Homo sapiens: one gene and its partners. The protein of the gene in region 2 purifies or fractionates together with the protein of the main gene of each other region. This does not show direct contact. Each region holds a gene or a part of one and is shown on either strand. Other genes may lie near its edges.

Region 1 (2,895 bases), about 10 Mb from region 2:
CTTTCAGGAGAGGAGCATGAGAAACTGCAGCAACTGCTTCAGCGAATGGTGAGTGGGTAATAATTGTGGTGGGTAATGAAAGCAATTAAAGGTGGGAGATATTCACAGATCTGAACAGATCCCTCCCGTTCACCCATCTCATCTTTGCTCCTCAGGAGCAGCAAGAAATGGCACAGCAGGAACGAAAGCAACAGCAGGAGCTGCACCTGGCCCTGAAGCAAGAACGTCGGGCTCAGGCCCAGCAGGGCCATCGGCCATACTTCCTGAAAAAATGTGAGTTGGGCACAACTGTTGCTAACAGGGACAGGGGTGCAGGGGCCATGGTGGTAGAGTCTTGTGTTGGGGTGTCCCTGATCCCCTTTAAGGAAGGCATGAAGGCTGGATCCCATGGTAACTTGGAGGAAAGTAGAAATAGTAGGGAGTTGTTTGTAACCAGTCTTGTATCCCTAATTAGATCATGGCAGGCATTGTCACCTTTATTTCTTGGTCTACACTCCCCACTTCCCAACCCCCCCCCCCCAACACACACACAGTGAGTTTTATCTCTTGGTCTACACTACACACACACACACACACACACACACACACACACACAAACACAGAGTCAGTTTTATCTCTTGGTCTACACACACACACACACACAATCAGTTTTATCTCTTGGTCTATACTACACACACACACAGAGTTTTATCTCTTGGTCTACACACACACACACACAATCAGTTTTGTTTCTTGGTCTACACTGCACACACACACATGCACACACGCTGGGCCAGGCACATAGGTGTTCATAGTTGGTTGAATTGAGTAGTACTGAGATCATATAAAAAGTCATCAGTTGGGCTGGGCACGGTGGCTCACGCCTATAATCCCAGCACTATGGGAGGCCAGTGTGGGGGGGTCACGAGGTCAGGAGTTCGAGACCAGCCTGGGGGCCAACATGGTGAAACCCTGTCTCTACTAAAGATATAAAAAAATTAGCCGGGCCTGGTGGCGTGCACCTGTAATCCAGCTACTCAGGAGGCTGAGGCAGGAGGATCACTTGAGCCCGGGAGGTGGAGGTTGCAGAAAGCCTAGATTGCACTGTTGTACTCCAGCCTGGGCAACAGCGTGAGACTCCATCTCACAGGAAAAACAAACAAACAAAAAAAAGTCACCAGTTGGGCCGGGCGCAGTGCCTCACACCTGTAATCCCAGCACTTTGGGAGGCCAAGGAGGGCAGATCACGAGGTCAGGAGTTCAAGACCAGCCTGGCAAACATGGTGAAACCCCGTCTCTACTAAAAATACAAAAATTAGCTGGGTGTGGTGCTGTGCATCTGTAATCCCAGCTACTCAGAAGGCTGAGGCAGGAGAATCGCTTGAATCTGGGAGGCGGAGGTTGCAGTGAGCTGAAATCGTGCCACAGCACTTCAGCCTGGGTGACAGAGTGAGACTCCATCTCAAAAAAAAAAAGTCACCCGTTGGCCAGGCGCAGTGGCTCACGCCTGTAATCCCAGCACTTTGGGAGGCTGAGGAGAGCGGATCACCTGAGGTCAGGAGTTCGAGACCAGCCTGGCCAACATGGCGTAACCCTGTTTCTACTAAAAATACAAAAAAATTAGCCATATGTGGTGGTGCGCGCCTGTAATCCCAGCTACTCCGGAGGCTGAGGCAGGAGAATCACTTGAATCTAGAAGACGGAGGTTGCAGTGAGCCGAGATCGCGTCACTGCACTCCAGCCTGGGTAACAGAGCAGGACTCCGTCTCAGAAAAAAGATAGAGGGGCACCAGTGAGCTTTAAAGAACTCATGTATCCAGCATAATGGCTTGGAGTTACTGACCTGGTTTGGGAAAGAATAGGGGCTTCCTTCTTTGTTCACCAACTTTCATTCTCCCTGTCATTTAGCTGAGCAGCGCCAGTTGGCACTAGCTGAGAAGTTCAAGGAGCTGAAACGCAGCAAGAAATTGGAGAACTTCTTGAGTCGAAAGAGGCGACGAAATGCAGGCAAGGACAGGAGACATCTCCCTTTGAGCAAAGAGTAATAAGGAACTATCCTCTGCTCTGCCACTGCCCCAGGGAGACATGGATCTGTGAGGACAGATTTGGCCACGGCTGGTTTCCGTTCAAGGGCAAGGATCACAGCTGCCCTTGAATCTCATTGCCTCAGAGAAGACTAGAGGGCTCTTGGACTATCCCTAGGGCTACACAAGAATAGTTCAGCCTTCTGCCATGCCACACAGCCTCAGCTTGAATCTGGTTCATTGCGTCCTCGTGTTCTTCTCTCATCCTTGCCTTAAACCAGGGATTCTGATACCGAAGAAGAGGGGCCAATGAAAACCATGGAGTCTGTTCGTGACTCCCAGGGCTGGGACATTATGTAGGAGCCACTTCATAAACATTCTCTTTACTCATCTTTTTATTCTGTTTTTTGTGGCCTTCTTTTTGTGTTTCCCCCCCGAAACAGAGTCTCGCTCTGTCACCCAGGCTAGAGTACAGTGGTGCAATCTCGCCTCACTGCAACCTCCACCTCCCAGGTTCAAGTGATTCTTGTGCCTCAGCCTCCCGAGTAGCTGACATCCGCCACCAAGCCCAGCTAATTTCTTTCGTATTTTTAGTAGAGATAGAGTTTTGCCATGTTGGCTAGTTTGATCTTAAACTCTTGGCCTCAAGTGATCTGCCTGCCTCAGACTCCCAAAGTGCTGGGATTACAGGCGTTGAGCCACCGTTCCGGCCTTAAGGCCTCTGCTTTTATGTGGGATTTGTGGGTAGCCTAGAACTACTTTTTAGTGGGCCACATATTGGGATAGGCAATAAAGCCTAAGGCATCTACAACTGGGAAGTCAGATCAGAAACCCCTCCCACTTAAATCTGGGCCCCTCAAGGATGACAAGATCATTTAGTGGGTGAACCAAT
Region 2 (3,656 bases):
GACTGAATGCTTTGTTTGTGCTTTCTAACCTCTGTAATTGTGGGCTGTGAAAGCATCTCCCCAGGCTCTGGGTTTGAAGGCCATCTGATGGAACCACAGAGCAGTTGCTTTGGAAACATAATATTCTAAACTGGTTGTTTTTCTTTCCCTTCAGGCTTTCCTAAAATAGATACGTTATTGTGGGAAAATAGGATTTGGAAAAACACTTAAGCAACCTGGCAATTGATTATTGAATTTTATTTGAAAAATAACTTTGTTTACCAAAATACTTTGAAAAGGCTATTTGCTGTTCTTTTTCCCATTTAGCAGAGGTATAGAGCAGTTGAAACATCTGGTGAAATTAGTACTTACAAGAAATGCCTGATCATTGCCTAGAATACTTTTCACTCTTAGTTTCCTTACAACTAAAATTCCTTGCTGAGAAAGAAACTTCTCTCAGGGCCTGAAAGGAAACAGTTAGTTGTCCCTAGTGTATCTGACACTGCCCTGAGAGAATGCCTCACGGTAGGGAGAATGGAGAGAAGGATGCAGCTCAAACATCCTTCATTCCTCACCCACACCCAGGGGAGGGGAAGGGAATACTTTCTACAGAGAGGAAGCCTTCTGGCTTGTCCAGAGCCAGGCCTCACTCCTCTAAACTTGCCCCTGCAACACCTGGAGAGCTTGGCTCTGCAGCTGGTGTAGCTAGGAGCACATCACTCTACAGATCCTCAACTAAAGTGGACTTAACTCTGCAAAGCAGGCGTCAGTGGGTAGGCTGGAGACCTTCCTTTAAATGACACAAATTATACTTTGGCTGGGACATCCAGCACCACCTTAGCCCTAGTTGGAAGCAAAAGTACTTAACATTTGCCTAAGATCATAGCAAAGACAGATAGTGCCTACCTTATGTCAGGTATTGGGCTAACTAATCTAATGCTTATTGCACTCTTACCATCTGCTTTCTACAGAGGGAAAGTTCTGGGAGGCCTGAACAGGGAGAACTGCTAGCATAAGAGGGCAGGGCTTGAGGATTCAGGGAAAATGCCAGACATACCTGTTTCAGTTTGGATTGAGGACAGGCTGTTTCTTTGTGTTTTGTTTTAAAGACTTCTCAAGTGTACAGAACCTGTCTTTTTTAACTTAGCCAAGAGTGTTACGTTCAGCTATAACCCAGGGGTATTCCTGTTCACAAGGAGAAGGAAAAAAAAAAAACACCTGTGGAGGTCATGGGTGTGAAATTATCTTAATGGGCATCCTTATGCTCTGGACATGAAAGATTTGAAATGTAAAAACCACATGCTTTGACCTGGCACTCCCTAATAGCACTGCGAAAATTGGCCAACTAAACCCTAGAGGAAATAGGTACTTTCAATTTTGAGTAGTTCATGGTTAATTTTAAACCAAACATCTGCGGAAGAAAAAGATGCAGTTAAAGGTCTGCTTTTCCACAGAATTCTTCATGGACAGAGTATCCCTACCATGTTCTTACTAAGAATTCAAAAACAGATGAAGAAGGGCAAAGATGCTTGGAACTGCTGTTTGAGGTGCATTTGGACTGAGAGTCAGGATTCCTTTGTGCTAATCCCAGTGGTACCAAGACCTGGGCCATCCTTATCACTTCTCATTCCCTGTTTTCTCATTAAAAATACGAGCTTGTACCAGATCTAAAAAATACACAGTTGAGGACTCACACAGAAACAAAGCTATGAAGAGGGTCAACCCTACGTATTCTTGGAGATTTTGCTTAGAAAAGCACCTTAGGTCCTGTGATGTAGTTGAACTTGAGTATGGATAGTCTATTTTTCATTACTTTTTACCCCATTTCTGCATAGGAGGTAGTAAACATGCAGCTTCATCAAGCTCTTATCACCAGAAGCAGCCAGTCTTCTTTGGAAAGGGGTTATCTTGTTGCTCTGACATCTTGGGATGCTGATGTTAATGGCTGATAAGGGCCACCCAAGATGATGTTTTCCTCCTTTTTCTTTAAGTGTTTCCAGTGACCTTGTTTCCTGAGATGTTTCAGTAGCATTCCAGAAAGTGCCATGGAAATGGTTATTATGCTAAAGGTTACAAGTTGTTTGTGGTTAAATGTGTTATTAGATGGGAAAAGTCAACTCACCGTTAAAAATGATTCACTCCTGGCTGGGTGCAGGGGCTCACACCTGGAATCCCAGCACTTTGGGTGGCCAAGGCAAGCAGATCACTGGAGCTCAGGAGTTTAAGACCAGCCTGCGCAACATGGTGAAACCCCATCTTTACAACAAAAATATAAAAATTAGCCGGGCATGACAGCGTGCACCTGTAGTCTCAGCTACTTGGGAGGCTGAGGTAGGAGGATGGCTTGAGCCCAGGAAGTGGAGGTTGCAGTGAGCTGAGATTGTGCCACTGCACACCAGCCTGAGCAACACAGCCAGGCCCTGTCTCAAAGAAAAAAGATTCACTCCATGAATTATGTCATCCAGAACCAGGTGTGAAACTCACCTACATTTTTTTCTTTCATTGAAAAGGTGCATGAAACCATCAGGGTTATTGACTTTATCTCATATGGAGAAAAGAGCTTGTAGCTAGGTTTTAATTATAGCTCTGCACATCCTCTTGGCCTAATTAAAGTTTGCTTTACTCCAAGGAAGGAGGAAGTGTATAAAGCTTTGCAGTGGTACTGTTTGTATCTCAGTTCCTCAGAAAAAAGCCTGCAAATAATGCCCCTGGGTGGTTCTTGGAGTTGGCAGTGGTATGGAAAATTTCGTTAGGTAGTGGTTAGCTGTTTGTGATGGCCTGCTTTTTCATTATAGTATAGTCCTGTCCTCTTTCGATCTGATTCTCAGAAGCCCAAGGTAGACAGACACCTGCCCCTATTTTCAGTACTTCACCTTCTCCAGCCTACTGGGTCCTCTCACCCTGTGGTGTCTACTTAACACGCAACTTGAAGAATTTCTGGGAAATTGACCAAAACAGCTCTTTGGAAAGAAGCTAGGCCTCAGTCCCAAAGGGAAAGGTGGCTGATGTGACTTTGACTTGAGGATTGTCTCCTGTGATGTGCTCCTAGTGGGGCTACAGGGGTCAGTCCTTTGCTTTGAGCACCTCTGTAGTCCACTACCCATGGACACATTGCTATCCTCTGAGGGGGATGGAGGGAGTAGAGCCCTCTACTGCTAGCCCATTTTATGGAGGTTTGATGAGGGTCTTAGGTGAATAAGCTTCAACTCAGGTCCTTGGTCTTGGTTTGTTAAATTATTCTATCCTTTCTGAAGCCAGGGAGATTTGAGAATTTCCATGACCCCATTATGAAATTGATGATGAAGAGTTTTCATCTTGTGAACAGAGTTCAGATGAATATGATCACAAAGTCAAGCCTCGTTTAAAATACTATGAAGCTCTCTTTATTGCTGCACATGAAACATTAGGCCTAGATTTAGGGGAAAGAATTGGCAGTCTTGAACTCTTTGTCATTTGTTTAGCAAATATTTGTTTGACATCTCTGGTACGCTAATCCCTGTGCTGGAATATGTTGATGCAGATGCAGGAGCCACAGTCACCACCCTTCGAAATCTTACAGAAGAGCACACAACAGGCCCATTAACAAAGGGAGCATGTGAGCAAACAGCTACAGGTCACTGCAAGGTGAGGGTAGAGGAAGGAGAATAGACCTCAGGCTCTAGTGCTCAAGGGAGTAA
Region 3 (3,539 bases), on a different chromosome or scaffold from region 2:
GTCTCCAAAGGCGTTGAGGAAATTAACCAGAATGAGAAGCCCCACCACCAGTGTTTTATTCTAAGCACCTCCAGCCAGAGCTGAGTGGATTAGGAAAGGCAGAAAAAAATCCCTGTGATGGGGTGAGGGCTGCTGGTGAAGATGCCTGCCACAACCCCACCCCCAGGTAAGAGGGGCAAGGTGAGATCAGGGGCTGGCACCACCCTGACGCCCCAAATAGCTCCAGCCTAAAGCACCATCAGCCTGCGATGTTCTAGGGTGAGCTGCTCCATGCCTGCATCCTTTAAAGGTTCTTTTCTCCTTTCTCATTTCTTTGCCAAATCTCAAGTCCTCGTTGCATCCCTCACTTGTCTTGCCCTTGCAAAGAGCCCACAGGACCTCTCAGGACCAGTTCTCTGTCTTCCTAGCTGATCCGAAAGCCAAATTCATGGCCTATGGAGTTCATGGGCTGATATGTCACCTTCCTCTCCCAGATCACCTATGCATTTCCACATACTTTAACACAGAGCAGTGACTTGAAGGTAGGGTTTTCTGGCCAGCTACTGATAATATATATACAAGGGCCAAGTGTGATCTGCATCACACTGGGTTTGCTCTGACCCCCTCACTGCTCACACCAGGAATGGACCTTGGAGAGTGTCATTTCTGGGGCACACACAATAGGCAGCTTAATCCCACCGCCCTATGCCAATCCCAGTTCATGGCAATGCTTTTGAGAATTCTTCCTTTTTTGCTTTGAGTCAGTCAAGGCTGGCCTCCCAAGAAGCATAAATTGCTAGTCCAAGGCTGTATGGAACACAGCATGTTCTGTCCACTAGAAGAAAGGGGTTCCAGGCCCTAGATTCCCAGCATAAAACACTGTTCATCCCATGCAAAATGCAGTGAAAATTGGTGGATGCTAAAGAGGTTCTTGCCTTGATCTTCAGAAGACATATCCTTGGGTGTCCCTGGGTTGAGAGAGTCCATTGAGGGGTTCCACAGTGAGGATCAAAGCATGCCGGTCTCCCTCTCATTCATAGAAGTCCTCTCATTCATTGATGACATCTTGGTAAAGCTTCTATGGCTGGGGTAGGAAGAGTGGCCTGTATCTTCACTTAGAGCATTGACCAGGCGAGAGAAGAGGGCCACCTTGAACTTCTTGAAGTCCTGACCCATGAAAACATACAGAATGGGGTTCATGCAGCTGTTGGCAATGGCAAGGGCAGTGGCCAGGGGCAAACCCAGGCTGAAGACAGAGCCAGGCATGGCAGTGTGGTGGAGCTCTAGGAGGTTGAGTGTGTGGTAGGGGCACCAGCAGAGGAAGAAGGTAATGATGATGGTCACAATAATCTTGAAGGGCTTCTTGGTCTTGGCCAGGCGGTTGCGCTGCAGTTTGCACACGATGGTGAGGTAGCAAGCTGTGATGATGAGGACTGGGACCAGGAAGCCACAGAGGAAGCGGGTGACAGTCACCACCATGTGCCGGCTATACCCCACAGGGTCCATTTGGGAGTGAGTGGGCCACGAGGAAGACCCAGGTGTGGACAGGCTGAAGTTGTTGAAGCAGGATATTTTCCCATGCAGGTTGGCTGTGTCCCGGAAGACGAGAGATGGGGAACTCAAGAAGAAAGCCAGGACCCAGATGACCATGCAGGCCATGTAAGCCAGGCGAACGCTGCGGTGGTTCTGGGACCAGACAGGGAGGAGCACAGAGATGCAGCGGTCAGAGCTGATGATGGTCAGCAGGAAGACGCTGGTGAACATGTTGTGGATGAGAAGGAAGTTGCTGATCTTGCACATGGCTGTCCCGAAAACCCAGTGGTAGTCCATGGCGGCATAGGTGATATGGATTGGGAGGAAGACGTTGAACAGGAAATCTGCCACTGCCAGGTTGAGGAACCAGACCATGTTCACTGTCTTCTTCATCTTGAAGGTGGCAATGATGATCACCAGACCATTGCCCAGAATCCCGAGGAAGCAGACGATGCTGTAGACCACCACCAGGAAGATCCTGGTCACCCTGGCTTCCAAGGGGGATAAGTCCTCCAAAACCACAATGGAGTCTAAATAATCAGGGTATTCATCACCGTAACTGATGGAAGTGTTGTAATCTTCATCCTCCATTCTCTGCAAGAGAAGACAGGGACCATTAGAGGAACCCTAGAGTTGGCTTTAAGAGGTTGACCAATACCAGCAAGACCAACAATGTTCCCCCTGACTCTGAGCAAGTCCAGTTTTGTGATTTAACCATTTCCTTCTTTGCTATTTTATTTATTGAACAAATGCCTCTCTGGTACCTCCTACATGCCAGGCACTATTGCATTCTACACTCTCTTAATCTTCACAGTAACTCAATGAGGTAGGTAGGTTATGAGCCTCAACTTACAAATGAGGAAACTGAGTCACAGAGAGCTTATGTCATTTGCCTGAAGTCCTACAGCTAGGAAAAGGCAGACCTGTGATTTGAATCCAAGCTTCAGAGTCTATCCTTTTGACAACCATGTTTTCTGTCTGCTTGGGGCCCTGTCTTCCTCTAGAGCCTAGTGGGGGAGACAATTGTTCATCAAAAAGTCCCTCAAATAATGGGAACATTGCAATAATGCTAAGTGCAATGAAGAAGAGGTACATGGTGCTGTGAACTTGATTCCAACATGCTTCTAAAACCAAGTGGACAGCCTTGTTGTGATCCCCCTGTGCACCCAATCTGTCAGTGGTCACTGGTGCCCTTTGGAGTTCAGACCACAAGACTTCCTCACCATTCACCGTTATGTTGTCTGCAGCTCTCCAATGTGAGTCCTCAGCCAATCAGTCCCTGTACACAGCTAGAAACACCTGTAGGGAAAAAAAAAAAAAAAAAAGCAGCAATTGGATCCAGGTCTAAGAACCAGAGGGTTGAGTGGACCCAGCCAGAAATAAGATCTGTTGTTCTTATTCCCATTTTACAGAGAAGGAAGCAGAAGTTCAGAAAGGCTGTTATTCAGCCAAGGTTATGCAGCCAGGAAGGGATGGAGCCCCTTGAACCTAGGTCAACTGACTCTTCCCAGGTCAAGTGCTGGACTCTTCATTCTAACCACTCCCCTCTCCCAGCACATCCCTAGCTGACAGCTGGAGTCGGGCATGAGTAAAGGAAGACACAGAGGAGGTACATGGATGGCTCAATCCACTACCAGGTCGGGACTCAACTCCACTACCAGGGCAGGACCCACAAAATACTGTTTTAGGAAGTGTGAGCACAGAGAAAACAGGAGAAGACCCACACAGAGTACCTGCTATGTGCCAAGAACTTTTATTCTTTCTTGTTATTTAGTCTTCCTTGGGACTTTTCCAGGCAGGTGTTATTCCTTTTGTGTTAAGAAATAGAGAGACTGAGGCTCAGAGAAAGAAGCATCATTCTTGCTGGATATTCTCTGGGCCCTATGGGAACCATGAATGAGATGCAGGCTCTGAAGCCACAGCAGTCTGGTGTGAAGACAGACACAAATATATCCACTGAGCCTCCGCTGTGCAGACAACTTAAGTGGCACTTTAAACAAGCCCCATAACAATCTTGCTGAGTATTT

The links.
Region 1: the proteins of ELOVL5 (region 2) and RRP36 purify together in Homo sapiens (affinity purification with mass spectrometry; one large-scale study listed by BioGRID and IntAct). This does not show direct contact.
Region 3: the proteins of ELOVL5 (region 2) and CMKLR1 purify together in Homo sapiens (co-immunoprecipitation; one large-scale study listed by IntAct). This does not show direct contact.

The regions. Positions count from the first base shown.
Region 1 is NC_000006.12:43,027,205-43,030,099, forward strand, and holds the end of RRP36 (ribosomal RNA processing protein 36 homolog), read left to right. Parts: coding exon 1-48; intron 49-155; coding exon 156-273; intron 274-1,887; coding exon 1,888-2,024; 3' UTR 2,025-2,395; downstream 2,396-2,895. UniProt on the Homo sapiens protein: Involved in the early processing steps of the pre-rRNA in the maturation pathway leading to the 18S rRNA.
Region 2 is NC_000006.12:53,279,361-53,283,016, reverse strand, and holds part of ELOVL5 (very long chain fatty acid elongase 5), read left to right. Parts: intron 1-3,656. UniProt on the Homo sapiens protein: Catalyzes the first and rate-limiting reaction of the four reactions that constitute the long-chain fatty acids elongation cycle.
Region 3 is NC_000012.12:108,290,854-108,294,392, forward strand, and holds part of CMKLR1 (chemerin-like receptor 1), read right to left. Parts: intron 2,812-3,539; 5' UTR 2,739-2,811; coding exon 2,736-2,738; intron 2,107-2,735; coding exon 988-2,106; 3' UTR 1-987. UniProt on the Homo sapiens protein: Receptor for the chemoattractant adipokine chemerin/RARRES2 and for the omega-3 fatty acid derived molecule resolvin E1.